Linked DNA regions of Homo sapiens. The protein of the gene in region 1 purifies or fractionates together with the protein of each later gene. This does not show direct contact. Each region holds a gene or a part of one and is shown on either strand. Other genes may lie near its edges.

What was found.
Region 2: the proteins of FBXL6 (region 1) and IRS4 purify together in Homo sapiens (affinity purification with mass spectrometry, with the first as the bait; 2 studies listed by BioGRID). This does not show direct contact.

What each region holds. Positions count from the first base shown.
Region 1 is NC_000008.11:144,350,887-144,367,139, forward strand, and holds FBXL6 (F-box/LRR-repeat protein 6), read right to left. Parts: upstream 7,587-16,253; 5' UTR 7,562-7,586; coding exon 7,146-7,561; intron 6,901-7,145; coding exon 6,742-6,900; intron 6,617-6,741; coding exon 6,553-6,616; intron 6,236-6,552; coding exon 6,104-6,235; intron 6,030-6,103; coding exon 5,922-6,029; intron 5,828-5,921; coding exon 5,714-5,827; intron 5,646-5,713; coding exon 5,414-5,645; intron 5,329-5,413; coding exon 5,082-5,328; intron 4,793-5,081; coding exon 4,645-4,792; 3' UTR 4,545-4,644; downstream 1-4,544. Other genes in the region: CATSPERQ (cation channel sperm-associated auxiliary subunit TMEM249), read right to left, coding at 2,462-2,641, 2,892-2,977, 3,068-3,263, 3,351-3,445, 3,731-3,881; SLC52A2 (solute carrier family 52, riboflavin transporter, member 2), read left to right, coding at 8,408-8,537, 8,737-9,607, 9,704-9,827, 9,917-10,129.
Region 2 is NC_000023.11:108,733,564-108,743,991, reverse strand, and holds the start of IRS4 (insulin receptor substrate 4), read left to right. Parts: upstream 1-7,428; 5' UTR 7,429-7,647; coding exon 7,648-10,428. UniProt on the Homo sapiens protein: Acts as an interface between multiple growth factor receptors possessing tyrosine kinase activity, such as insulin receptor, IGF1R and FGFR1, and a complex network of intracellular signaling molecules containing SH2 domains.

The DNA.
Region 1 (16,253 bases):
CTTTCTCCCCAGGGCCTTTCTGCCTTTTCAAAATCTCCCCCACAAGGTCCTGTAAGCTCCTCAGGCCTTGTCTAATTCAGAACTCCTGACTGCCAACCCCTCTCCCCATAGCCACCAGCCCCAGTGCCCAGGCCAGACACTCTGGACTCCCGAGTCACTTTTCTTCCCAGCCCACTTCCCGCCCAGCAGCAAATCCCCTCCACGGAGCCGGAGCTCAGAACTGTCTGTGGTCCTTGCTCCTCTCTGTTCCCCTCTGCCCCTCCAGCTCCCTTTCCTCCGTGCACAATTCCTGCAGCCTCCTGGCCTTTCCCCACCGCTCCCTCCCTGGGTCTTAGTGCATATCTGCTTACAGCTCTCCAGCAGATTCCCATGGCACACAGGACTAAAGCTCTGAGCTATGGCCTCCAAGGACGCTGCCTGCCCTTCCCACCTCATCTCAGGCCTCCTTCTCCCTTGTCCTCTCTACTCTGACCAGCCCAATCCCCTTGCAGCTTCTCCAGCACACCCAGCTCAGTCCTATATCACGCCCTTGTGTTGTGTTTACTCTTTGCCCACGATGCCCTTCCCCCAAAGCTCCCCAGCCAGAGGGACCCTGCCCCTCCAACCACTCTTCATTCTGGGTCCCTCTTAGATCACCAGCTCCAGGGAGGAGGGACTTTGCCTGCCTGAGTGAAACAGAGCCCTCAACCCAAACCTAAGTTTGGTGCTGCCACTGTAGGACACCTTGAGCCCCATCTTCTGGGGAGTGGAGGTCCCTGCACTTGTGCTGTTAATGACAATTGCTTCCAGGGATTACCTAAAGCCACTTCAGTAGCCCCCAGATCCTGCCCCAGAGATGGGCCAGGGTGCCTGTGTGCCCAGTGAGTTTTGAGCAGCCTTGGGATTGGGGGTCAAGTAGAGACTCTAAGTCATGGTTCCAGGCAGAACTGGCTTCACGAGCCTGCAACCTGGGCAGTCACACAGGGCCCCAGGCTCAGAAAGGCCCCATACTTGAGTTTTTGTTGCTGTTGTTGTTGTCGTTGTCGTTTTGGGACAGAGTCTCACTCTGTCACCCAGGCTGGAGTGCAATGGCTCAATCTCCGCTCACCCGCAACCTCTGCCTCCCAGGTTCAAGCGATTCTATTCCTTCAGCCTCCCGAGTAGCTGAGATTGCAGGGATGCACCACCACACCCAGCTAATTTTATATTTTTAGTAGAGACAGGGTTTCACCATGTTGGTCGGGCTGGTCTTGAACTCCTGACCTCAGATGATCCGCCCGCCTTGGCCTCCCAAAGTGCTGGGATGACAGGCGTGAGCCACCATGCCCAGTCTATCTTGAAATTCTTAATAACTTTATTTTTATTTTTATTGTTTATTTTATTAGAGACTGGGGTCTCACTATGTTGTCCAGGCTAGCCTTGAACTCCTGGGTTTAAGCTGTCCTCCCACCTTAGCCTCCTGAGCAGCCGAGACTACAGGTATACACCACTGCACCCCACTTATTAACTTCCTAACAATGGGCTCCAAATTTTCATTTGGCATGGGACCCTGCAAATTATGTAGCTGCTCCTGGTTGCAGGGACGTTCAGCTGATAATGCCTGAAGATCCGGAGAGCCAGGTCCTGCTTTCCCTGGGACCCCATGGCCCACAGCCTTCTCGGCTTCCACAACAGCCCCCAGCACTCAGGAGGCCTCAGGTGCTGCAGTGATAGCTGGGGGATCCACTGGACAGGAGAGTGTGGGCCTGGGGTTCCAGCAGGCACAGCAAGTGGGTGTCAGGGGCGCAGGCCTGGGGTTCCAGTGGGCACGGTGAGCGGGTGTCAGGGGCGCGGGCCTGGGGTTCCAGCGGGCATGGCGAGCGGGTGTCAGGGCACTGCACATCCTCCCTCCTAGGAGGCCCTGCACCCTGGCCCGGGACTCTTGTGCCCACCCCCTTGGAGGCAAGCGGCAGCAGCTTTGTGGGTACTGGGGCAAGCATGCACCCCAGGCACAGGGCTTGTTCTCTGGCCGCACCCCACCCCATTGCTGGTTGGAGTAGCAGCAGGCACCGGGTCCAGAATGGGCCAGATTCTGACTCCTGGATTCCACGCATTGGTCAGCACCTCTGAGGTCAGGTAGGACAAGTTAAGTGCTGCTGGCTAAGAGGGGATGGAGTTCCCAGCCTCTCTAGTGATGGGCCGAACCTCAGAGGCCTGGCTATATGCCATCCCTTGCTCTCAGCTGTTCCTGTCTTCGAACACAAGCTGTGGGGTTTGCTTCAGTCAGCTGGAAGGCACAGGCTCTCTGAGGTCCTAGGAGTGCGCAACAGTGGAAGACCTAGGCACCAGAGGGCCTCCCCTGCCCCCTAAAATGATCCGTGTGGAAGCTGAGGCAGCTTTATTGAAAGGAAGGCCAGTGAGTGGGACTCACATTTGATCTGCCCCAGAGTGGGGCTGGGAGGTTACCGAGAACACAGTCCCGAGGTGGGGGAGGCCCTCAGAGTCACACCTCCAGGCTGGACTGAGAGGAGCTGGGCTTGTGACCCATGGGGCTCTTGCCCATCACAGTGCCAGCGCCAGGGGGTGGCCAGTGGCGAACCACGTGCCGGTAGGAGGTGGCCAGGTAGTCGAAGTAGTTGATGTTGAGTTTCCGGGCGATGTAACGGCCCAAGTATTCCATTTGCTGTGGGAGCAGGTGGCGCTCAACTGGGGCCGGGACAGGACAGACCCGAGTCGCCGTCCAGGCGTCTCCTTCCCCTACCAGGCTGCATCCCCCGTCCTGCCCGAAGCCCCGGCGCCCTCTCCACGGCCCCCAGCACCGAAGACCGTGTTGTATTTACCCTCTGCGTGCGGAAACGGCCCCACCCAAAGACCTTAAACAGTGATCGGTGTCATCGTGTCCTGAGGAGGGCGCGTGTCTGGGCGGGACCCACCTCGTAGTGCTCCGACAGCTGCACCAGCACCAGGGGCTCCAACCTGTGGCCGCCGAGGACCAGGTGGAAGAAGCACCTTCCGTGGGCTGCGGGGAGAGCGGACTTAGCCAGCCTGGCCGCCCCTCCGACCTCCCAAGCTGCCTCCCCGTCCCTGGCGCACCCTCCCGGCCCGTTACCATCGGAGCTGAGCGCCAGGCGCACGTAGACCAGATGCAAGGGGCCCTGGCACACGGTGCGGCCCTGGATGGAGAAGTGGTACACGCCGCGCGTGTGGTTCAGCACCAGGCGGCGCCGCGGCAGCGACGAGATCACGAGCCACAGGCCCACGCCCACGCCGTACACGAGGAAGACCCAGGTCTCTTGCTTCTGCACCTGCGGGCGCCACGCGGAGAGTCTGAGCGGCGCGGGGCCGGCCCTCAGGGGAGGAGGGCGGTGGGGGTCGGGCCCAGGGGCTCACACCTCTCTCAGGGAGCTGAAGCTGACCAGGACCACGCTGATGATGAAGAGCAGCATCCCCTTCCACAGTGTGTCCAGGTAGTATTCGAGCACGAAGACTGGGGGTGGCGCGGCGCGTGAGGACGCCCCGGCCCTGCCCGCAGCCGGGGGTGGCGGTGCCAAGGCTTGGCCCGGACTAGCTGGGTCCGCGCAGGGCTCGCGGAGGCGACGTCTCGCCTGCGGCCTCTCCGTCCCCAGGAGCACCGGCCGGCCCCACCCAGGGCCCTGGCCCTGCCTCTGCCCACCTGGCTCCGCCCCATTCAGGCCTCGGGCCCGTCTCCCTCCTCCCCCGCCCCGCCCTTCCCAGCCCCGCCCCGCCCCGCCCCGCCCAGCCTCGCGCGCACCGTTTGGCTCCTGCTGCACGAATGGGTAGAAGCTATTGTTCTTGAGGCGTCTGGCCAGGTGGCGCTCCGGGCAGGTGAGTCCTAGGAACCAGAGCTGGAAGCGCCAGCCGATGGAGGTCGTGGGCAGGCTGCCGGCCCGGCCCTTAGGCATCTGAGTCAGGCAGAGGTGGTCAGCCTGGCCGCTCGTCCGCTGCCGCCGCCCACTGCCCACAGCGGCACTCCTACCTCGGTGAGCAAATTCTCCAGGGCTGCAGGCCCAGGAAGGAGCAGGAGCTCACAGGCGACTGACAGGGCAGCGAGGCCAGGGAGCGGCCCAGGGTGGACCGCGGATGGGTTCTAGAAGTTCTGGGCAGGTTCTAGAAGGGGCTGCTCTGTTGACCACCTCTTAGGGAGTCCAGGGTGAGGTCCTGCGGTAGGCATTAACTTCTTGGCCAGTCCATCCACTGGAGGCCCCCTGTATGGCCTGTTCACAGTCCCCATGTGAAGGGTGGATGGGTGGACACCCTAGGCCTGAGCTGGAGAGAAATTTGCAGGCGGCGACCACTCAGTGAGCCCCACAGCTGGGCGGGGCCCCACCCCCTCCCACCCCCCACCCACATGCAACCACAGACAAGCTCACCAGTGTCCCCGAGGACGGAACACACACACTGGACCCAGCAGTGGGCAGGCAAAGGCATGGCCACCTGCAGGCTCAAGAGCCCATGGGACCACCCTGACCCCACAACACACAGGCTCTGGGCCGGCTGTAGCCCCAGTGGCTCCATCAGGTATAACCTGTTGCCCAACCCTACCCTGAGGACCACACACACAGAACTCCTAAAAATGTTTTATTTTAACAAAATGCTCAAATATCTGAAATTGGGCAAAGGTGGAGGGTGGGCAAGCTGGCTGAGGTGTCCCAGGTCTGTGGCTGCCTAGCTGGGTGAGGGGCTGGTGAGCAGCTGCTCCAGACACCACTGGACTTCCTCCAGGCCCCGGTAGGCCCGCTTCAGACCCCGGGGAAGGCAGCGGCAGGACTCCAGGTTGAGGTAGAGCAGGCCCGGGCAGCCGCTGATCACAGAGCTGTGGGGAGGGCAGACCACAGGAAGTTGAGCTGTTGCCTCAGAAGGGCTGGGCCAGGCTAGGGAGCTGTGCCTGCTGGTGTTCGACACCTGGCTCTGCCACCCATAGCCACCAAGGCCAAGCCCAGTTCCCCTGGTGTCCTCAGGCCCACCCCACGCAGGGGCTTGGACAGTATGCATGCCCCTCTGACCCCTGGAGGTCTCAGGCCAGGCAGGACACAACTTCCAGGCCCCAGGCAGACACAGTGACAGCCACACTGGCTCCAGGGACTGGGGTAGGGGATGCTGACCTGACAGTGCTTGGTGTGACCCGGGTGCCCCTGAGGTTAAGAGAGCACAGGGCTGGGTGTGAGCCCCCAGGGGTGCTTAAGAAGGCAGCCAGGGCCTGCTCCAGGTCCTTCTCACTGAACCCCTGGCCACTCAAGTCCAGTTCTCGCAGTGTATGGCACCACTTCTGGGTCAAAAAGGGGCTGCCCTCCTTGGCTAGAGTCAGCCGGTCTGACGTGCCATACAGGCCCAGATGAAGCTGCTCCAGCTCTGCAGTGAAAGGAGTGAGCATAAGCTACAAGGTGACAAGGGCCCCCACACCTCACCCGCCCGGCCACCACCCAGGACTGCTGACCCCGACATGGCAGATCCTGAAGGCCAGCCGGCGTGATGCGCGCACAGCCACGAAGATCCAGTAAGCGCAGGTTGGGAGAGCCGTGGAGTAGGCGGCCCAGGACCTCGTTGCTCACAAAGTTGCAGGTTGAGCTCGCCAGGCAGAGCTCCTCTAGGCTAGGGAAGCCTGGTCCGGGAGCCACCCCTCGTCCCGGAGGCTTGGGCAGCCACATCAGGTTCAACAGCCGCAGCACCTGGGGGCAAGGTCCAGGCTGTAGATGGGGGAGGGTGTGACAGGTGGGAGAGGCAGGGCGCCAGGTACCTGGAGCTGAGGGCAGCCTTTCTGCAGAGCCTCGACAGGCAGCTGAAGGGGAATGCTATTACGGTTGATGCCGGTGCTCACCTCCAGGACCTGGAGCTGGGGGCAGCAGCTGCCCTGCAGAGATGGGGGGAGGGGGTAGGTCACAGGGTCAGTGGCCTGGCAGTCCCCAGCTCAGCATCTGCCTCTGCTCCCACCAATGCCAACTTACCAGCAGTGCGCCCAGGATGGCTGTCGTCTGGGAGCTGTAGGTCAGCCACAACTTGCGCATTCGGGACCCTGCCTCCTCCAAGAAGCTCACCACAGCTGTGGACTCCACCTGGGGCCCCAATACAAGAGCACCCGTCACCCCGGCCTGGGTTTTTTCAGGGCCCCTTGGGACACAGGGCTCACCATGGAGTGCTGTAGGTCCAGGCTATGGAGCTGGCAGCAGGCTTTGGCTAGCATGACCAGAGCGTCAGCAGTCACACCGTGGCAGCCGGAGAGCTTGAGGAAAGTGAGCCGAGGACAGCACTCACCTACCAGCTGCGGGGAGACAGAGGGGCAGCTGGGGTTGGGAGACGACAGGCTAAGATCCACAAGGGAAACAGACAAGTGGCTGGTGCCAACCCCACTCTACCGCCTTAGCTGTGACCTCCTTTCTGCCCATGCCAGGCCTACTTGGGTGTCCCCGCCTCTGATACCTCCCTGCTGGAGGAAACAGCAGGAAAAGAGAACCAGGCAGGCAGGCAGACATCCCCACGGAGCAGCGTTGGGCCCCCAAGGTGCCTGACCCACTTCCTAGAGTACTGAACAGTCCCAGAGTGTCACAGCTGATGTGCAGGACAGCCTGGAGCTCTCACCTTCAACACGGGGTGTACCTGAGACTTCCAGTGGATGAGGGTCAGCCTCTGGAGCTGTGAAAACCTGGGCCGACAGCGGAGGCAGAGCTGCACTAATGTTCCCACACGAGTCCTTCCCACCCAACACCTTGGTGCAGGGAGACGGAAGGAGCCTGGAGCCAGGGGTAAGGAAGAGAGGGAACCCCTCACCGATTGGGCATAAGCCACTCCAGGGAAGCAAGGAGCTTCTTCTCCGCCTTGACCCCGCCCTTGGCAGGCCGGCCGACCAGCGGGGACGACAGGGTCACGGTGTGCCAGAGCGCGGGTTGGGAAGCGGCCTCCTGCCAGCGGCGGCACACGCGCGCAGCCCTGGGAGGACAGCGTGCTGAGGGTGCCGGCCCCTCCGTAGGCGATGCCCCCCTCTCGCAGCGCAGTAGACACCCCGGCTCAAAGCCGGGCTCCTGGGACTCCAACTGGGCGCCTAAGGGGCTGCGCTCTCGGACTGAGCGGTGCGCGCTCCGATGCTTTCGCCCTCCGCCCCCGCCCGGGCCACCGCTCGGACCACGTCTGGCCCAAGCCGCTACGCTCGGCGGCGGGCCCGGCACCAGCGTTACCTGCCCAGGAAGGGCATGGGGCCGTCCGCCGCCACCAACAACCCGAAAATCTGCACCAGGATTTCCAAGGGAATGCGGTCTCCCCAGCCCGCGTCGGGCCCTTCCTCGGGCGTGGGCGTGGGTGCCGGTGCGGGTGCGGGCGCGGCCGCCGCCTCGGACCTGAGCCCGGCCTTGGGCTTGGCCGCGGCGCTGGGGCCCCGGGGCGGCTGCCGGGGAGTGCGGCGGGAAGCGCGCCGCTGTGCGCGGGGCCGGGCGGGGCCGGGTTCGGACAGCACCAGCAGCATGCTGTCGGACTGCAGCAGGTGGTACCCCGAGCCCCTCGGCGCCAGCCGGTCCCACCACCAGTCCTCGGCCGAGCGGGGCCGCGGCGCTGCCCGGGCTCTGCGTCGGACCTGCCGGGAGGCTGGGGCAGCCATGACCACCGACGGCGCTCGGGGAAGCCCCAGGGAGCGGAACGGGCGAGGCTTATAGACCGACAACCCCCCGGTTCCTCTCAACGCCCGCCCGCCCGCCGACCAGCTTCCGGGGCGGGACTTCCGGTCGTGGGCCATGCCGGGGGCGGGCCCGGAACCGCCACGGGTGAGTCGGGTCGTGGCTGCTGCCGGGTCCTGCGCGCTCCGGACTGAGGTGGCGTCCCTGGGCCGGACGGCGGTGTCCCGGCGTGGCGGGAAGCCGGCACTGGAGCGGGAGCGCACTGGGCGCGGGACCGGGAGGCGCAGGGACCGGACGGCTCCCGAGTCGCCCACCTGACGGTACCGAGAGGGCGGCGCCCCTCCGAGCAGAGCCGTCCCGGCCACTCCCCTGGGATCTGACTTGGCTCTTGCGGTCGCGGGCACCGTGAAGCCCTGGGGTGTGCGTGGCTCCTCCTGGTAGGCGCCCTTTCCCGGCGTCCGGCTTGGGGTGGTGGTGGCGTTGACTCCAGCCCCGCCTCTCCCTGGAGAGGAGGGCTCCACTCGCTCCTTCGGCCTCCTCCCCTGGGGCCGCAGCGACTCGGGCCGGCTTCCTGCTTCCCTGCCTGCCGGCGGTCCCGCTGGGTACGTTTTAGCCAATCCTCCCCATCTGCGCTCCTGCCCGGGGCTCCCCCAGTTCCCCTGGTCTCACCCTGTTCTGACTCCGGCTCTGCATCCTATCTGTTTCTCTGTTTCTTTCAAGCTAGAAGAAGTCTTCACTTCCCAGGAGAGCCAAAGCGTGTCTGGCCCTAGGTGGGAAAAGAACTGGCTGTGACCTTTGCCCTGACCTGGAAGGGCCCAGCCTTGGGCTGAATGGCAGCACCCACGCCCGCCCGTCCGGTGCTGACCCACCTGCTGGTGGCTCTCTTCGGCATGGGCTCCTGGGCTGCGGTCAATGGGATCTGGGTGGAGCTACCTGTGGTGGTCAAAGAGCTTCCAGAGGGTGAGTGGGAGGGAGGTGCAGGTGTGCCCAAGACTCCTGGGCTGCGGTCAGTGGGATCTGGGTGGAGCTACCTGTGGTGGTCAGAGAGCTTCCAGAGGGTGAGTGGGAGGAGGTGCAGGTGTGCCCAGGAAGGTGGGCTTTGGCACTCTTCCTCCCTTGGGCATCATGACCCTGACATGGCCTCCTCCCTTCCCTGCAGGTTGGAGCCTCCCCTCTTACGTCTCTGTGCTTGTGGCTCTGGGGAACCTGGGTCTGCTGGTGGTGACCCTCTGGAGGAGGCTGGCCCCAGGAAAGGACGAGCAGGTCCCCATCCGGGTGGTGCAGGTGCTGGGCATGGTGGGCACAGCCCTGCTGGCCTCTCTGTGGCACCATGTGGCCCCAGTGGCAGGACAGTTGCATTCTGTGGCCTTCTTAGCACTGGCCTTTGTGCTGGCACTGGCATGCTGTGCCTCGAATGTCACTTTCCTGCCCTTCTTGAGCCACCTGCCACCTCGCTTCTTACGGTCATTCTTCCTGGGTCAAGGCCTGAGTGCCCTGCTGCCCTGCGTGCTGGCCCTAGTGCAGGGTGTGGGCCGCCTCGAGTGCCCGCCAGCCCCCATCAACGGCACCCCTGGCCCCCCGCTCGACTTCCTTGAGCGTTTTCCCGCCAGCACCTTCTTCTGGGCACTGACTGCCCTTCTGGTCGCTTCAGCTGCTGCCTTCCAGGGTCTTCTGCTGCTGTTGCCGCCACCACCATCTGTACCCACAGGGGAGTTAGGATCAGGCCTCCAGGTGGGAGCCCCAGGAGCAGAGGAAGAGGTGGAAGAGTCCTCACCACTGCAAGAGCCACCAAGCCAGGCAGCAGGCACCACCCCTGGTCCAGACCCTAAGGCCTATCAGCTTCTATCAGCCCGCAGTGCCTGCCTGCTGGGCCTGTTGGCCGCCACCAACGCGCTGACCAATGGCGTGCTGCCTGCCGTGCAGAGCTTTTCCTGCTTACCCTACGGGCGTCTGGCCTACCACCTGGCTGTGGTGCTGGGCAGTGCTGCCAATCCCCTGGCCTGCTTCCTGGCCATGGGTGTGCTGTGCAGGTACACAAGGACCCCCAGCCCCTGTGCGGGTGGAACTCAGGGCTAGGAGCCAGGTCCTGGCGCAGTCAGCCCTGACATTCTGCTCGCTCACTGCAGGTCCTTGGCAGGGCTGGGCGGCCTCTCTCTGCTGGGCGTGTTCTGTGGGGGCTACCTGATGGCGCTGGCAGTCCTGAGCCCCTGCCCGCCCCTGGTGGGCACCTCGGCGGGGGTGGTCCTCGTGGTGAGCACAGGGGGACATGAAGTGGGGTGGGGGGGCGTTGCCCTGGAGCAGGCACATCTCACGCTCAGCTGGTGCTGTGTCCCCCTCAGGTGCTGTCGTGGGTGCTGTGTCTTGGCGTGTTCTCCTACGTGAAGGTGGCAGCCAGCTCCCTGCTGCATGGCGGGGGCCGGCCGGCATTGCTGGCAGCCGGCGTGGCCATCCAGGTGGGCTCTCTGCTCGGCGCTGTTGCTATGTTCCCCCCGACCAGCATCTATCACGTGTTCCACAGCAGAAAGGACTGTGCAGACCCCTGTGACTCCTGAGCCTGGGCAGGTGGGGACCCCGCTCCCCAACACCTGTCTTTCCCTCAATGCTGCCACCATGCCTGAGTGCCTGCAGCCCAGGAGGCCCGCACACCGGTACACTCGTGGACACCTACACACTCCATAGGAGATCCTGGCTTTCCAGGGTGGGCAAGGGCAAGGAGCAGGCTTGGAGCCAGGGACCAGTGGGGGCTGTAGGGTAAGCCCCTGAGCCTGGGACCTACATGTGGTTTGCGTAATAAAACATTTGTATTTAATGAGTTGGCATTAATTCTTTGAGCACATCTCTCTGTGTGGATGCTTCCCTGAACTAGAGCCATGGCCTGGCCTGTTTAACAGGCTGCCTCTCCCCAGGCCCTGGGCAGGTCCTTACCCACCACAGGCTGGTCTCACGGATTGTACAGTCATGCCCTCTGAGCCCAGACTACCCCACATTGCTTCTTGGAACTGCCCTGGGCTCTCTGGGCCCACACGAGCTACCAGCTTCGGTGGTCAGAGGAGTAGAGGAGCCTCTTCCCGGCAAGGCCACTGCTCCACGAGCACCTCTCAAGGGCTGAGGGTTAGTCGGATGGGGCTGCGATGTGCCGAGCCCCCTGTCCACCCTTAGCCCTGGAGTGACTGTTTGCCTGCTAGCTTCCCAGGAGTATCCTGCTAGGGATTTACACCAGGGGGTTGGTGTGCAGGCACCGGGGTACTCAGTGAGGGGGACTCAGAAGAGACAGAGTTTAAGGTTTTAGCCCATCGGGACCGTTTGGCCTGAGCATTACCCCACTCCCCTGAGCCTCCACCCTCTCAGTGACAGCTCCTCCTGCAATCAGACCCCCAAAGGCCCCAAACTGTTTCTTCAGGCAGACTTGGCTACAGCTGTCTTCTCCCTGGGCTGCTGGCACACTGCCCCTAGCCCTGAGCAGCCTGGGCCTGTATGTGTTGGCATCTGCAGGGAGCAGGACCTCAGCACTGACCATGGTCTATCCTGGGCTGGGTGGTTCTTGGGCTCCCACAAAAAGAGCTGGAGCTGCAAAGGAACTAACTGAGAGGAGCCCCTGAGCCTGGGAGCAAGGATCTGGAAGAAAGTGCTGGGAGAGACCACGCCAAGGTAGGAGCCTGGCTTTCTTCACCTCGTGGGCCGCCACCCCAGGGAGGCAGGACACCGAACTGTGATCAGTATGACGGGCCTGGCAGCAAGGCCCATTCTCCCAGGCAAGAGGCCCCACTTCTGCAGAAGGGCCCCTGCAGCTACAGGGAGCGTGCAGGCACTGGGGATGGTGGGTCTGTTCCTGCTGCCCAAGCTCTGTCTGCGACGGTTCCGCTCTGCGGAGGCCCTTTCTCATTGTCCTTGAGTTGGCCTGCACACGGGCCTTTGAAGGCCTGGTCTTCCTCCCCACTTCTGCTCCCTCCTGTCTTGGCAGGACCATCAGAGGAGGAAGGAGCCCCTGTGACCCGGAAAGCCTCTAGTCTGGGCCCCATCAAACATCAGGGGGCAGGCCAGCTCCCAGGGGGGCTCAGGACCACCCAACTCTGAGGGCAGAGGCCACTGCCAGCTCCAGCCTTCCAGGATGCTGCCGCCTGAGGCTGGGCCCCTGCCCAGCTGACCCGGCTGCTTCCCTTTGGGGGTTGCAGGTACTGAGGGTTCTAGGGGGTGGGGGCTGAAGGTTGAGTGTGAGCTTCAGAAGTCGCCTGGTAAAAGAAGAAAGCTTCTGAGGGAGGATGAGGACAAGGATGGGACAAGGTGGGTGGTTTGGTGGCATGGCTGTGGGCAACAGGGCTCCTGGTCTCATGCTTGCCCCCTTCCCCTCATCGCTTTGCCACCACCCCCATCAGCACCGGTGCTTGGGGCCTGCCCTCTCCTGTCCACCCTGGGCTGCAGGCTTGGTGGAGCCACCTCCCAGCTTCTTCTATCTTCCCTCCCATAGGCCAGCGATCAAAGGCATCCATGGAGGCTCTGCTCTGTGCCACACATGAGCCACACTCCCCCAGGCCGCAGAGGAGCAAGGTGCACAAGCCTGAGTGAGGAATCCGCTGCCTTTTGAAGTCTCTGTGAGCTTCCTGCCCATCCCAGTAGGAACTGGGGCAGGGGTCAGAATCATAATGGCAGAAAGGTGCCTCAGGGCCGAGGCCTTGAGCACTGCTCACTTACAGTTTCCCGGGGCTGAGTCCAGGGCCAAAGCTGGGCCCCTGGGAGGCAGGATAGCCCACCACGCAGGGCCTGCTGGGGCGAGGATGCCCACCACCACCAGCTGCACAGCAAGTGGCCAGAGGCTCTGAAGCGCGAAACCCTGCCCAAGAGGAATTTGGAGGAGACTCCACCCTCCACCGGAAGGCAGGAATGGAGCCGGACCTGACGTCCCCCACTGTCCCCAGAGGGTGGTCCCCTGAGTAGGAGCAAAGCCTGCAACTCACTGTTCCTTGTCCCTCCACAAGGAAAGGTTTCCTGGGCTCCTCACCAGCAGAGAAGGGGCCAAGTGCAGTAGCTCATGCATGTAATCCCAGCACTTTGGGAGGCCGAGGCGGGTGGACCACCTGAGGTCAGGAGTTCGAGACCAGCCTGGCAAACATGGCAAAACCCCGTCTCTACTAAAAATACAAAAATATGCCAGGCGTGGTAGCAGGTGTCTGTAATCCCAGCTACTCGGGAGGCTGAGGCAGAATTGCTTGAACCTGGGAGGCAGAGGTTGCAGTGAGCCGAGATCGCGCCATTGCACTCCAGCCTGGGCAACAAGAGCGAAACTGCATCTCAAAAAAAGAAAAAAACCAGCAGTGAAGGGCCAGCCAGGCCGTGGCCACCACGTGCAGCCGCCTGTCCCAGGTATGTGGTCATCCCATGTGATGCTGATCCTCTGTGTGTGGGGACAAGCCTCGCTGGCTGTGATTGAGCAGCTGACCTAAGAGCCTTCCCATCCTTCAGTTCTGTAGTTCTCCGCCCAGCTTAGTCCCTAGATGGGTGCAGGTGACTACGGGGTTAAGGAACAGTTGCACCCCTTGATTTTTTTTTTTTGGGAAGGAGTCTCGCTCTTTCGCCCAGGCCGGAGTGCAGTGGCGCTATCTTGGCTCACTGCAAGCTCTGCCTCCTGGGTTCACGCCATTCTCCTGCATCAGCCTCCCGAGTAGCTGGGACTACAGGCGCCCGCCACCACGCCCGGCTATTTTTTTGTATTTTTAGTAGAGATGGGGTTTAACTGTGTTAGCCAGGATGGTCTCGATCTCCTGACCTTGTGATCCGCCCGCCTCGGCCTCCCAAAGTTCTGGGATTACAGGCGTGAGACACTGCGCCCGGTCTTGTTTGTCTTTTAGAGGTAGAGTCTCGTTCTTTTGCCCAGGCCTGAGGCTCAAGTGAGGTCGAGGACTCAAATGATCTTTTTTTATTTTTGGAGACTGAGTCTCGCTCTGTCACCAGGCTGGAGTGCAATGGCACGATCTCAGCTCACTGCAACCTCCGCCTCCCGGGTTCAAGCGATTCTCCTGCCTCAGCCTCCCGAGTAGCCGGGATTACAGGTGCCCACCACCACACCCAGCTAATTTTTGTATTTTTAGTAGAGACGGGATTTCACCATGTTGGCCAGGCTGGTCTCGAACTCCTGACCTCAGGTGATCCGCCCACCTCGGCCTCCCACAGTGCTGAGATGACAGGTGTGAGCCATGGCGCCCGGCCCAAGATGGTTTTAGATATGACAAAACATCTTGATAGAAACTGAAACCCTTAGCCGGGTGCGGTGGCTCACACCTGTCATCTCAGCACTGTGGGAGGCTGAGGTGGGCGGATCACCTGAGTTAAGGAGTTCGAGACCAGCTTGGCCAACATGGTGAAACCCCGTCTCTACTAAAAATACAAAAATTAGCCGGGCGTGGTGGCGCACGCCTGTAATCCCAGCTACTCGGGAGGCTGAGGCAGAAGAATCGCTTGAACCCGGGAGGTGGAGGTTGTAGTGAGCTGAGATTGCACCACTGCACTCCAGCCTAGGCTATGACAGAGCAAGACTCTGTCTCAAAAAAAAAAAACTTGAGCCTGGGCAACATAGTGACATCCCATATCTACCAAAAAATTAAAAATTGGCTGGGCATGGTGGTGAGAGCCTACAGTCCCACTTACTCGGGAGGCTGAGGCAGGAGGATCACTTGAGCCCAAGAGGTCTAGGCTGCAGTGAGCCTTGATTGTACCACCGGACTTCAGCCTGGGTAACAGAGCGAGACTCTGTCTCTAAATAAAATAAATACATGATTTTGGAGATTCCCCAGAGATTTGTCCTTTCACCTCCTGCCCTTGATTCTCAGAGGCTCTTACTGAGCCTCCTCAGTTTTCATGGCAACGTAGGTATTTGCATGGTGTCTTGTGGGCGGAGGATTACCTAGGTGCCGAGGCAAGAGACTGAAGGCAGAAACTGTTTCAGTATAATAAAGAAAATATTTAGAATAAGAATAGTCATAATACAAATTAGATATAGGGATGACCATGGACAATTATCAATCATTATTATAAGCATTATTAATCATTAGCTTTTACCATTACTCTTTGTTGCATTACTAACAAAACGTAGGAATAACCGGCGGATATAGGGTCGGGTGCTGAACGGACATGGTGAGAAGTGACCTAGAAGGCAAGAGGTGAGCCCTCTGTCACGCCCGCATAAGGGCTGCTTGAGGGCTCCTTGGTCAAGCCCTAACGCCAGTGTCTGGGAAGTCACCCGTTGCTTAGTAGACTGCGAAAGGGAGTCTCCTTTCCTTGGAGGAGTCAGGGAACACTCTGCTCCACCAGCTTCTTGTGGAAGGCTGGATATTATCCAGGCCTGGCCGCAATCATCCGGAGGCCTAAACCCCTCCCTGTGGTGCTTCAATGTTCACGCTCCTTGTCCACTTTCATGCTCCTCCTGTACTCCTAGTTCCTCTTTGAAGTTTGTAGTAGATAGCAGTAGAAGAAATAGTGAAAGTCTTAAAGTCTTTGATCTTTCTTGTAAGTGCATACAAGAAAACGCTGACGTTTGCTGCCTTCTCTCTCTGCTTCGGCTACCTAAGAGGGAAGGGCCCCCTGTCCTATGATCATGTGACTTGCTTCACCTTGTCAATCACTTAGAAGATTCACCCTCCTTACCCTGCCCCCCTTGTCTTGTATGCAATAAATATCAGCGCGCCCAGCCATTCGGGGCCACTACCGGTCTCTGCGTCTTGATGGTAGTGGTCCCCCGGGCCCAGCTGTTTTCTCTTTATCTCTTTGTCTTGTGTCTTTATTTACTACAATCTCTCGTCTCTGCACATGGGGACAACACCCGCTTAGCCCCATAGGGCTGGACCCTACAGTGTCTTAGTTCGTTTTGTGCTGCTATAATGCCACAGACTGGGTAATTGATAATAAACTGGGATTTATTGGTTCTGGAGATTTGGAGGTCCAAGAGGGAGGGGCCACATCTCATGAGGACCTTCCTGCTGCCACATAACATGCCAGCAGGCATTATGTGGCTGGACGGAAAGGGGCCAAACTCATCCTTTTATAAGGAATCAATTCCCGAAATAATGGCATTAATCCCTTCATGAGGGTGAAGCCCTCAAGACCTAATCACCTCTTAAAGGTCCCACCTCTGGCGGGGTGTGGTGGTTCACGACTGTAATCCCAGCACTTTGGGAGGTGGAGGCGGGCGGATCACTAGGTCAGGAGTTCAAGACCAGCCTGACCAACATGGAGAAACCCCGTCTCTCTAAATATACAAAATTTGCCAGGCGTGGTGGCACATGCCTGTAATCCCAGCTATTCGGGAGGCTGAGGCGGGAGAATTGTTTGAACCTGGGAGGCAGAGGTTGCGACAAGCCAAGATCGCACCATTGCACTCCAGCCTGGGATGACAGAGCGAGATTCCATCTCAGAAAAAAATAAAAAGGTCCCACCTCCAATACTGCCACACTGGGGATCAGGTTTGCAATCCATGAACTCTGGGGGACACTTTCAAACCACAGCACATAGATTCAGTTAAGAGACTCTTCTCCTTTTACAGAAGACAATTGGATGAATTGGTTAGGTCACCAAGGCCTTGTCCAGGTTGTCATATGGAGAGTTCTGCTCTTTCACTGGGGATGACCAGCCGCTGCTGCGGACCTTGGGTTGCTGTTATGAAGGAGTGCCTGCAAATCCTCCTGAGGG
Region 2 (10,428 bases), on another chromosome or scaffold:
GAAAAAGGGTTGCAATACTAACAATTAGAGAAACATTGGAAAATAAAAGTGATTACAAACTAGGCTTATAAAATATATCTGGACATATTTTGAATGCTGATGATTGAGAAAGAGCATGTTTAATTAAAGCAGATAGATGAAGATTTCTGTAGAGATTCTTAAGGGGATCCTTTACAAAAGCACTTGTGATCCTTGAGGTATCTCTATTTCAAAACTTTTTTTTAATTTTCATTCACTCCTTCAGCATATATTTATTGAGAGTAGTATCTACCATGTGTCAGGCACTGTTCTTGGCATTGGGAATACAAGGTAAGTATACATGCAGAATATATGGGAATATAGGGAGCTTATATTCTAGTGGAAGGAATGAGAAAGGAAAAAAAATGATATCAGGAACTGCTAAGTGCTTTTCCTTAATGGAGGTTTATCATCACCATTACCCTAAGACTAATATTAAGTAAGTTTATACTTATAACCTTACATGATCAAGGTTAAAATTTCTCTTTGTTCCTAAATGGAACTAAAGACAGGAGGGGGAAATCAATGGGCACAGACATTTCCTGAGGTTTCTAACAACAACTGCAAGATGGGAAAGAAATATGTGTGAGAAAAAGATTTGCTGACCTGTGATAGATGAGGAAAACAATGGGCGTGATATTTTTGAGAGGGAAGAGATGTTAAGTTGGGCATAAGTCACCAAGCCTTGCCATCAGTCATGGAGAGTTTTGGCATGGTTGCAAGTGATTTGGAGGGGGAGGTAGTCTGCATTGACGTCTTGAACATTGTTGTTCTTCTCTTTCCCTTCTCCCTTGTCCCTCCCTCCCTTCCTTCTTCCTTCTGCCCTTTCCTTCCTTTAATCCTCTTCCCTTCCCTCCCCACTTCCCTCCCTCCCACTCTTCTTTTCTCCTTCCTTCCTTCCTTGAAGCAAACATGTACTGATAATTGCCAGACTGTTATACCAAGCATTAATTCCTGGCCCTCGAGGAGCATATAGCCTAGAACCGTGTTCTCAACTCTGGGATTAGTTATATCCAGGCATGGTAATTTTAACTGTTCAACAACCTGCGTAGCACAAGCCAACCAATAAGAATGTATGTCAGTCAAAATTTGAGTATGGAATCCTGGAAGCCCCTCAATGTGCCAGTAGTTAACCTTGTAGTTGCGGGATAGTGGAGAGGTAGAAGGTCCTAACGGAGGTGTTGTAGTAGCCAGGACAATGGGTGGGCAAGAAGACTACTCAGTGGGGAACAGTTTCAGGGCAGTAGCTATTTACTAAGTGGTAGAAAAGTATTCGTTATTTTACCAATGACTATCATTTAACAATGATATGCCTGTATGGATGAATACCAACTAAATCCTTAGCTCCACCTACATCCAATGCTTAAAGAGATTAGGCGGTGGGATTATGTGATGGAGGAAACCTTTTTCTGGGTCTTGATCTTATTCTTGAGAAAGATGATTGGCATCAGTTGGTGATGAGGAAAAAGAGGGAAACAGCTTAAGTAAAGATGGAAATTGAGAAATCGTATACAGAATGCCATTAAGAAACCAACCTGTGTGGAGGTGTGGGCAGCAAGAATGTACTGTAATAGAATGGGAGGCAAATTTGGAAGAAAAGGTTGTATACAGCAAGAGAGAAAAAGAGGTTGGTTGTTGTGTCAGTGGAGAACAGGGAAACATATTAGGGTTAGTTATTTAATTCTGATATAGCAGAGAAAGGGGGAGGGGGGCTTCTGTATGTCCTTGAGCAGGGAATTGTATGATGAAAGGAACATATGAAAGGAAATATTCTGCTGGCTATATGAAGAAGAGACTGAAGAATGCAGAAGCCAGTTTAAGAAGTTACTTAGGCAATTCTGGTAGGGTTAATTATGGCAGGGACAAGGATGGTGACTATGAAAGTGAAACAAAGTGTTCAATCTGACAGATATTGCAGGACCATGTGAGGAGTGGAGAGAGGGGAAACAACAAGAAACATAATACATATTATCCTAAATATGACAGCTGGCTTTCTAAATATCCAAAGAAAAATATAAGTCTATGATACTAACTCCTTTAAAATAATATATTTAACTATGTAATTATCCTACTTAATTTAAAAAATAAAGATTCTAACTTTTGAAGACAAGGCAGTATGAATTGATAGCCTTTTGACACTAAGAAAAATACTGCTATATGATATTAATACGGAAGAGCATAGCATTAAGCTAAATTTTCTATTATTGATTTATATTAGCATGGAGAACATGTATGATGTTAAATCATTAAAATTTATGTGAAACCTAGCAGACTTCATTGTTCTGATGTTTATCTTACTTAGTAAAAGTTATTTCCAAATGAAACTTTTATCTTTTGAAGGTGGGAAGAAATGCTTGATTTTTAACTAAGTTAACTTTAAGTTGACTCTTAAGATAACAGGAAAGCTTTAGGAGCCTAATTAAACCATGTATTTGCTCTAATTACTTTCGCTGGAGACTGCTAGGAAACAAAAGCAGCAAACAGACCTGTTCTGTGTGCAGCAGTCAGGCCTTTGATGGTTGTTTTCTCTAGCAGAGGTTTTGAGTAGCACAGAAGTAAAGAAGCTGAGAAGCAAAGCCATCATCTACAAACAGTGGCTGCAGCCACAAATCACAGGGCAGCCCTCATTCCTGCATAGTGTAGAAAGCATCTTTCATTGTACATGATTTATGTCCCAACACAGAGAAGCAATCGTCATCACTAACATCATTTTTTAATATCAAGGGTGGCATCACATTTTTATCAGCATAATTGGACGTTAGCTCATGAAGCTTTTAGAATTAATACTTAGAAGATAATTTATACGTGGGACAAGAATAATAGTTTTTTGATACTGGTTACTTTTCCTCTTAGGTTTTATTCTCTTGAATAATGTCGTCCATATTTAATACAACAGTTTAATTTTTAAACTAAATAAATCCACACTTGAATTACCCATTTCGATTTTAGTACAAGTTGAGTTTAGAATATTCATGATCATGTATGTAAGAAAAGAAGCAGATGAATTTTTGTTATCACTGACAAGTCAATTCAAACAATTGCTTTCTTAAAACAGGACTCACAGGAAATTCCTTTTAAAAGCACACATCATTAAAGGCATATTTCTTCATTAGTTGGAATTGGTTTTAAAGGTATTGTGGCTATTTATCCATTTACATTAGTTTATAGCCATAAAATGCCAGTTACAATGCTTGTGTTTTTTATCCCTTGAGTTGAATTGGCAAACTAAAACAAGAACTATCTTTTAAGTCTTATTATTTATTATCTGTTGTTTTAAAAATCTGTATTTCAGACCCTTTGTGCAGATTCCAAACTTTACAGTTGTAATAACTGAATATGCAAGGCAACTTTAGCCTTCTGGGATAAACTGTCCTAAAATAAAAACAAAAACGAAAAAAAATAAGAGACAGGAATCTATAACCAAGAGAGGGTAGAGCATTAAAGCCACCACTGAGTGAGTTCAAGCCAAATAAAAATTCTCTACATTTTGCCTAAACCATCTAGATATCTGTTTTACTTTGCCTATGAGAATCTGACCTAAACTAAATGACTATTCTATATCATTAAGTTGTCCAGGAAAATGAAAATTTAAATGTATGTCAGACAAGCTCTAGCATCTGGTACAATTCAGTAATGATGGTCTGCTCTACAGAGCTTCAGTGTTGAGACAACTTTAGGACTGAGAAGGTTTGGTTGACCTGTAGGAAGAAAATAATGTTCTAGTCAGACATTCTCCCAGTTTACAAGTACTCATGCTTGCCAGATTAGGAAAGATACAAAGTAAAATTCTTCTGTGAAGCATCTCACTATAGCTCTAATTCCACTTCGCTGCAGCCAAATAATATACCCTGGGTACAAAGTGATCAGCACTGTTCATCTTTCACTGTAATAGTTTAGAAATTATTTTCACACTTCTTTTTTTAACACATTGATTAATGCTAGATATTTCCCCTTAAAATAGAAAATGTCTCATAAAGTATTATTTCAGAGTGATAAATAAAATTTAACTAATTTAGATGCTCTCATAATTTGTTGACAAAAGAAGAAACCTATTTCTCCTTTTAAAAGAGCATATAAGCTGAAATATATGAGATCTTTTAAAAGAAGTTTAAAAGTGACCATGGTGACACTTGTATCAACAGCTCCCTTTCAAACTGTGCTACAAATCACATCATGCCCAATTTACATATCTTTCAAAATAGAAGAAAATCAAGTTAAATGTGATTTTTAAAGTCAACAGACTGGGGAAAAAAAACTTGCAACAAATACCACAAAGTTTTAATGTATTTATTACATAAACAAGTTACACATAAGAAGAAAATACTAAGAATACAATAGACAACACAAAGGACATAGGAAATAATATAATGTCAGTGAATATATATAAATGTTTAATCTCACTAGTTAAAAAAAAAAAGCACATTGAAAGAATAGTGGAGGCCAGGTGCAGTAGCTCAGGCCTGTAATCCCAGCACTTTGGGAGGCTGAGGCAGGTGGATCACAAGGTCAGGAGTTCGAGACTAGCCTGGCCAACATGGTGAAAACCCTTCTCTACTAAAAATACAAAAAATAGCTGGGCATGGTGGCGGGCACTTGTAATCCCAGCTACTTGGGAGGCTGAGGCAGGAGAATTGCTTGAACCCGGGAGACCGAGGTTGCAGGGAGCTGAGATCACGTCACTGCACTCCAGCCTCGGTGACAGGATGAGACTCCATCTCAAAAAAAAAAAAAAAAAGAATAGTGGAATACCGTTTCACCCATCTTATCTCTAATTTTTTAAAAATAAGAATGTCCAATGCTGACAATCAGTCTGGTGACAGGGTAAACTAATATAATATTTTTGAAAAATAATGTATTAAATATTCATATCTTTTAGCCTACTAATTCCAGTGCTCAGTTTTTACCCAATGGGAATTTTAAAAGGCTGTAGGTAGAAGATATTCATTGACATGTTATTTATAATACTGAAAAAAATGAAAACAACCTAAATGCCCCAAAGCAGATGATTAATTACATTAATATTCATCGATTGTGTTGGATAATATGTTGTATTTTAAATGATATTTATGCTGATGCATAATAATATGGGGAAATATTGTATAATGTTCAGTGAAAAGAACAGGATGCAAAATTATATAAATTGTAAGCCTACTGCTCTATGTAAAAACTATATGTACAGGAAAAAGGACATGAGGATTTAAAAATCTCCAGTATTTTCCCATTTCATTTAATATTCATTTTGATATTTTCAATGTCATGTTATTACTCAAAGCACTTTCAAATATGTTGCCTTATTTGTCACATTTCTCTTTAAAAAAAAAAAGAAAAAAACCTTGTGCTTGGAAAGACTTATAAAATATCCTAATGACTATCAAACAAAATCCCAAATGAGAGCATTTGTTATCATTTTGGTTGTAAGTGCAGGGAATCTTGTATATATGTGACTACGCAGCTGAAATATGTAGCAGTCACAGTCAGGGATCTCTCAGCATCCACACTCGTTCTGCCTCTAGCTCCCTTCCGAAACCACGGCTGCTTCCAGCACCTGTGAATATATTGCACTTATAAACCATTGGCAGCAGAGGGAATGTTATTGAATATTTGTAATATCTGGGGGACAACCCAAACCAATTTCTTTTTCTCTTAAATTATAGCATCAAAAAGGAGCCATTTATTCAAATACGTGTGTTCTGTTTCTAACAGAGCAAATTCTTAAGAGGGCAGAAATATGGTTTATTTTTATGATATACATATTGCCTAGTTTACTGTTGGATTTTATAAATAGTACCCTTTGCCATATCAACCCTAGAGCAAGGGTGAACTGACATTCCATTCTTTCAGAGAGAAATGCTGTATTTCTCTCCTCCTCTCCCTCCATTCCTCTTTGCAAACCTGGTCACTCCTTTGATAATTCACGACCCATCTCCACCATTAAGAGTCTAAAATCCTAGTCAAGTAATAACTGGGGTGGTGGGGGAGAGAGGGAGAGGGAGAGGGAAAGGGAGAAGGAGAGGGAGAGAGAGAGAGAGACTTGAGGAGGTTGCACTTACACTCCGGCAGTTTTTCCAGAAATGAGGGAGGCAGTAGTTCTTACTTTTGTGATGTCAACTTGTAGACTGAAATGCATCAAAGCTCCTCTTCTTCTTCTTGTTGACGCGAGGGATGTGAAATGTGCTCTAGAATATGCATTCAGCGTGGTCCTTTGTTCTAGGTATGAGCTTTTCTTTTTCTAAAGTTTTTCGGTCTCGCTCAAGGAAAGGAAAGCAATATTTTGAGATTCTTTTAAAGGCACCTTCCAAAGCATTTCCCACAGAAAAATACCTTCACAGCCCAACACTGGTTATTTCAGTAAGAATCGAGTCCAATTTTTTCCAATATGGCTGTATACATTGCAGGCCCCCAAATTTGTGCTTTCATAGTCATCGTTAATCAAATAGGCAGAAACACTGTATTTAGGGAACCTGTGTTTCGTGGGCTAGAAGTGCATTCTGATTAATAAAGATCATGTTCATTTTGAATGCATCGCTGTTATTCGTGTGCCTCAGAGTCGCGGGCTTCTGTCAGGGGTGCAGCGGGCTCGGGAGTGCCTGCAGAGCGGTGGGAAGCAGTTCTGAGCGCCCTGGTCGTCAACCCGTTTTCAGGGGGTGCCGACACTTTCTCCCAAGAAGCTCGATCCGCCGCCTTGTGCGGCTGGAAAGAATGAACCAGACTGTGACAGGAACAGAGAATTTATGTGATTGACAGGGAGTACCAGGGCACCCGACTCCATCCCGGGTCACCACGGCTCTGGGATTTGCACGAGTTTACCACCACCATTAACAGCTATTTGCGTAAGGTTGTTTACCGCCTGAGAGCGCCACAAGCCGACAGCGAAGCCACTTTGGGACCCCAGCCACGCCCCCTCTCCCCTCTCCCCTCTCACCCCTCCCTCCCGCCAAACTAATGATTTCGGGGCTGCCTTCTTGCCGGACCCTCCCATTGGCTCCTATCCCAACCAATCAGAGCCTTGCAACAGTTTCACCTGGCTCCCGCTTCCCAAATAAACAAACAAACTGTCCCGCGACTGTGCCCGCTCTGCACCCTGGCGCCGCAGGCAGGCACTGCTTGCGCTACGCCCCCTCCCACCACCTCCCACCAATGGGGCCCCGACTGTGGCGCCCTCTCCCGACCCTGATAGCCGGCCGCTTTCTCCTCCGCCCCTCCAGGCCTTCTCCCGCCCCCTCATGCCTTCCTGGACTCCCTGTTAGAATCAGCTTGGCCAGAGAGCCCGCCTCCTCCTCTCGGTCCTCCCTTGGCCCACAGGCCTGGAGATTGACCGGGAGGATTTGGCACAGCCGGAGGTGGCTCCGCCTCCCGAGCCCGCCGTCTCCTCCCTTGCTCACCTCTACTGGTGGCCGCTCGCGCCCCTCCATTGCGCCGGTAGCAGGATCCGCAGCGGCCGCCGCGTGAGGCTGTGGTCACGTGTTGTTTTGCCCGCTGTCGTGCGCTCAGAGTGGAGTGGGCGGGGGCGCGGGCCAAGGCAGGAGGGGGCTGGGGCGGGCAGACGAGGGTAGACAGCCTCTTCCCCCAACCCTCCCTTTCCTGAATTCCCCCTCCTCCTCGCTCACCTTAAAACCATCGTGCATCACCATGGCGAGTTGCTCCTTCACTCGCGACCAAGCGACAAGAAGACTAAGAGGTGCAGCAGCGGCGGCAGCGGCAGCTCTAGCAGCAGTGGTGACCACCCCGCTTCTTTCCTCGGGAACCCCGACCGCACTCATTGGGACCGGGTCGTCTTGTCCGGGAGCCATGTGGCTCTCCACGGCCACTGGCTCCCGGTCAGACTCCGAGTCCGAAGAGGAGGACCTGCCCGTCGGGGAGGAAGTCTGCAAACGCGGCTACCTGCGGAAACAGAAGCATGGGCACAGGCGCTACTTCGTGCTCAAACTCGAGACTGCTGACGCCCCAGCTCGGCTGGAATACTACGAAAATGCCAGGAAGTTCCGGCACAGTGTCCGCGCCGCGGCGGCTGCAGCAGCGGCGGCCGCCTCTGGCGCCGCGATCCCCCCGCTCATTCCACCGCGGCGCGTGATCACCCTATACCAGTGCTTTTCCGTGAGCCAGCGAGCAGATGCAAGGTACCGACACCTCATTGCTCTTTTCACCCAAGACGAATACTTCGCGATGGTGGCCGAGAACGAGTCGGAGCAGGAAAGCTGGTACTTGCTGCTCAGCCGCCTCATCCTCGAGAGCAAGCGCCGCCGCTGCGGCACGCTCGGCGCGCAGCCGGACGGAGAGCCGGCCGCGCTGGCGGCGGCAGCGGCGGCGGAGCCACCCTTCTATAAAGATGTGTGGCAGGTAATAGTCAAACCCAGGGGGCTGGGGCACAGAAAAGAGCTGAGCGGCGTGTTCCGGCTGTGTCTAACCGACGAGGAGGTCGTGTTTGTGAGGCTGAACACCGAAGTGGCCAGCGTGGTCGTCCAGCTCCTGAGCATCCGTCGCTGTGGACACTCGGAGCAGTATTTCTTCTTGGAAGTAGGCAGGTCCACTGTCATCGGTCCGGGAGAGCTCTGGATGCAGGTCGATGACTGTGTGGTTGCCCAAAACATGCATGAGCTGTTTTTGGAGAAGATGAGAGCCTTGTGTGCAGACGAATACAGAGCCCGCTGCCGCAGCTACAGCATCAGCATCGGCGCCCACCTGTTAACCCTGCTGTCCGCTAGGAGGCACCTGGGCTTGGTGCCGCTCGAGCCGGGAGGCTGGCTCAGAAGGTCCCGCTTTGAGCAGTTTTGCCACCTCAGGGCCATCGGCGACGGGGAAGACGAGATGCTTTTCACCAGGCGCTTCGTAACACCCAGCGAGCCTGTGGCCCACTCCAGGCGAGGAAGACTGCACCTGCCCAGAGGGCGCAGGTCAAGGAGAGCGGTTTCAGTGCCGGCCAGCTTTTTTCGCCGCTTAGCACCCAGCCCAGCACGTCCCCGGCACCCTGCAGAAGCCCCGAACAATGGAGCTCGCCTGTCTTCTGAAGTGTCTGGTTCTGGCTCTGGCAACTTTGGGGAGGAAGGCAATCCCCAGGGCAAAGAAGATCAGGAAGGAAGCGGAGGTGACTACATGCCTATGAACAATTGGGGCTCAGGAAATGGCCGGGGCTCAGGAGGTGGCCAGGGCTCAAATGGCCAAGGCTCCAGTAGCCATAGCTCGGGAGGAAACCAGTGTTCAGGCGAGGGACAGGGATCCCGAGGTGGTCAGGGCTCAAATGGCCAGGGCTCAGGAGGAAACCAGTGCTCTAGAGATGGCCAGGGCACCGCAGGTGGGCACGGTTCAGGTGGTGGCCAGAGACCTGGAGGTGGGCATGGCTCAGGTGGTGGCCAGGGACCTGGAGATGGCCATGGCTCAGGTGGTGGCAAGAACTCTGGGGGGGGCAAAGGCTCAGGAAGTGGGAAAGGATCCGATGGTGATGGTGAACGTGGAAAATCTCTGAAGAAAAGATCCTATTTTGGCAAATTAACTCAAAGCAAGCAACAGCAAATGCCACCACCTCCACCACCTCCTCCTCCACCCCCACCAGCTGGAGGAACTGGTGGAAAAGGGAAGTCTGGGGGAAGATTCAGACTTTATTTTTGTGTTGACAGAGGAGCCACGAAAGAATGCAAAGAAGCCAAAGAAGTGAAAGATGCAGAGATCCCAGAAGGTGCAGCTCGAGGTCCCCACAGAGCCAGAGCTTTTGATGAAGATGAGGATGACCCATACGTGCCAATGAGGCCAGGGGTGGCCACCCCTCTTGTAAGCTCCAGTGATTATATGCCAATGGCTCCTCAAAATGTCTCTGCTTCAAAAAAGCGCCACTCTCGATCCCCTTTTGAAGATTCAAGAGGGTACATGATGATGTTTCCCAGAGTGAGCCCACCACCTGCTCCGAGTCCTCCAAAAGCACCTGATACTAATAAAGAGGATGACTCAAAGGACAATGACAGTGAGAGTGACTACATGTTTATGGCTCCTGGAGCCGGTGCAATTCCAAAAAACCCCAGAAATCCTCAGGGTGGCTCTTCCTCCAAAAGTTGGAGCTCCTACTTCTCTCTACCAAACCCTTTTCGGAGCTCACCTTTGGGACAGAATGACAACAGTGAGTATGTGCCAATGTTACCTGGAAAGTTCCTGGGGAGGGGCCTAGACAAAGAAGTCTCCTATAACTGGGACCCCAAAGATGCAGCTTCAAAGCCTTCAGGTGAGGGATCATTCTCAAAGCCTGGAGATGGGGGATCACCTTCAAAGCCTTCAGATCATGAGCCCCCAAAGAATAAAGCTAAGAGACCTAACCGACTTTCTTTTATTACAAAAGGATATAAAATCAAGCCAAAACCACAAAAGCCCACACATGAGCAGAGAGAAGCTGACAGCTCTAGTGACTACGTCAACATGGACTTCACT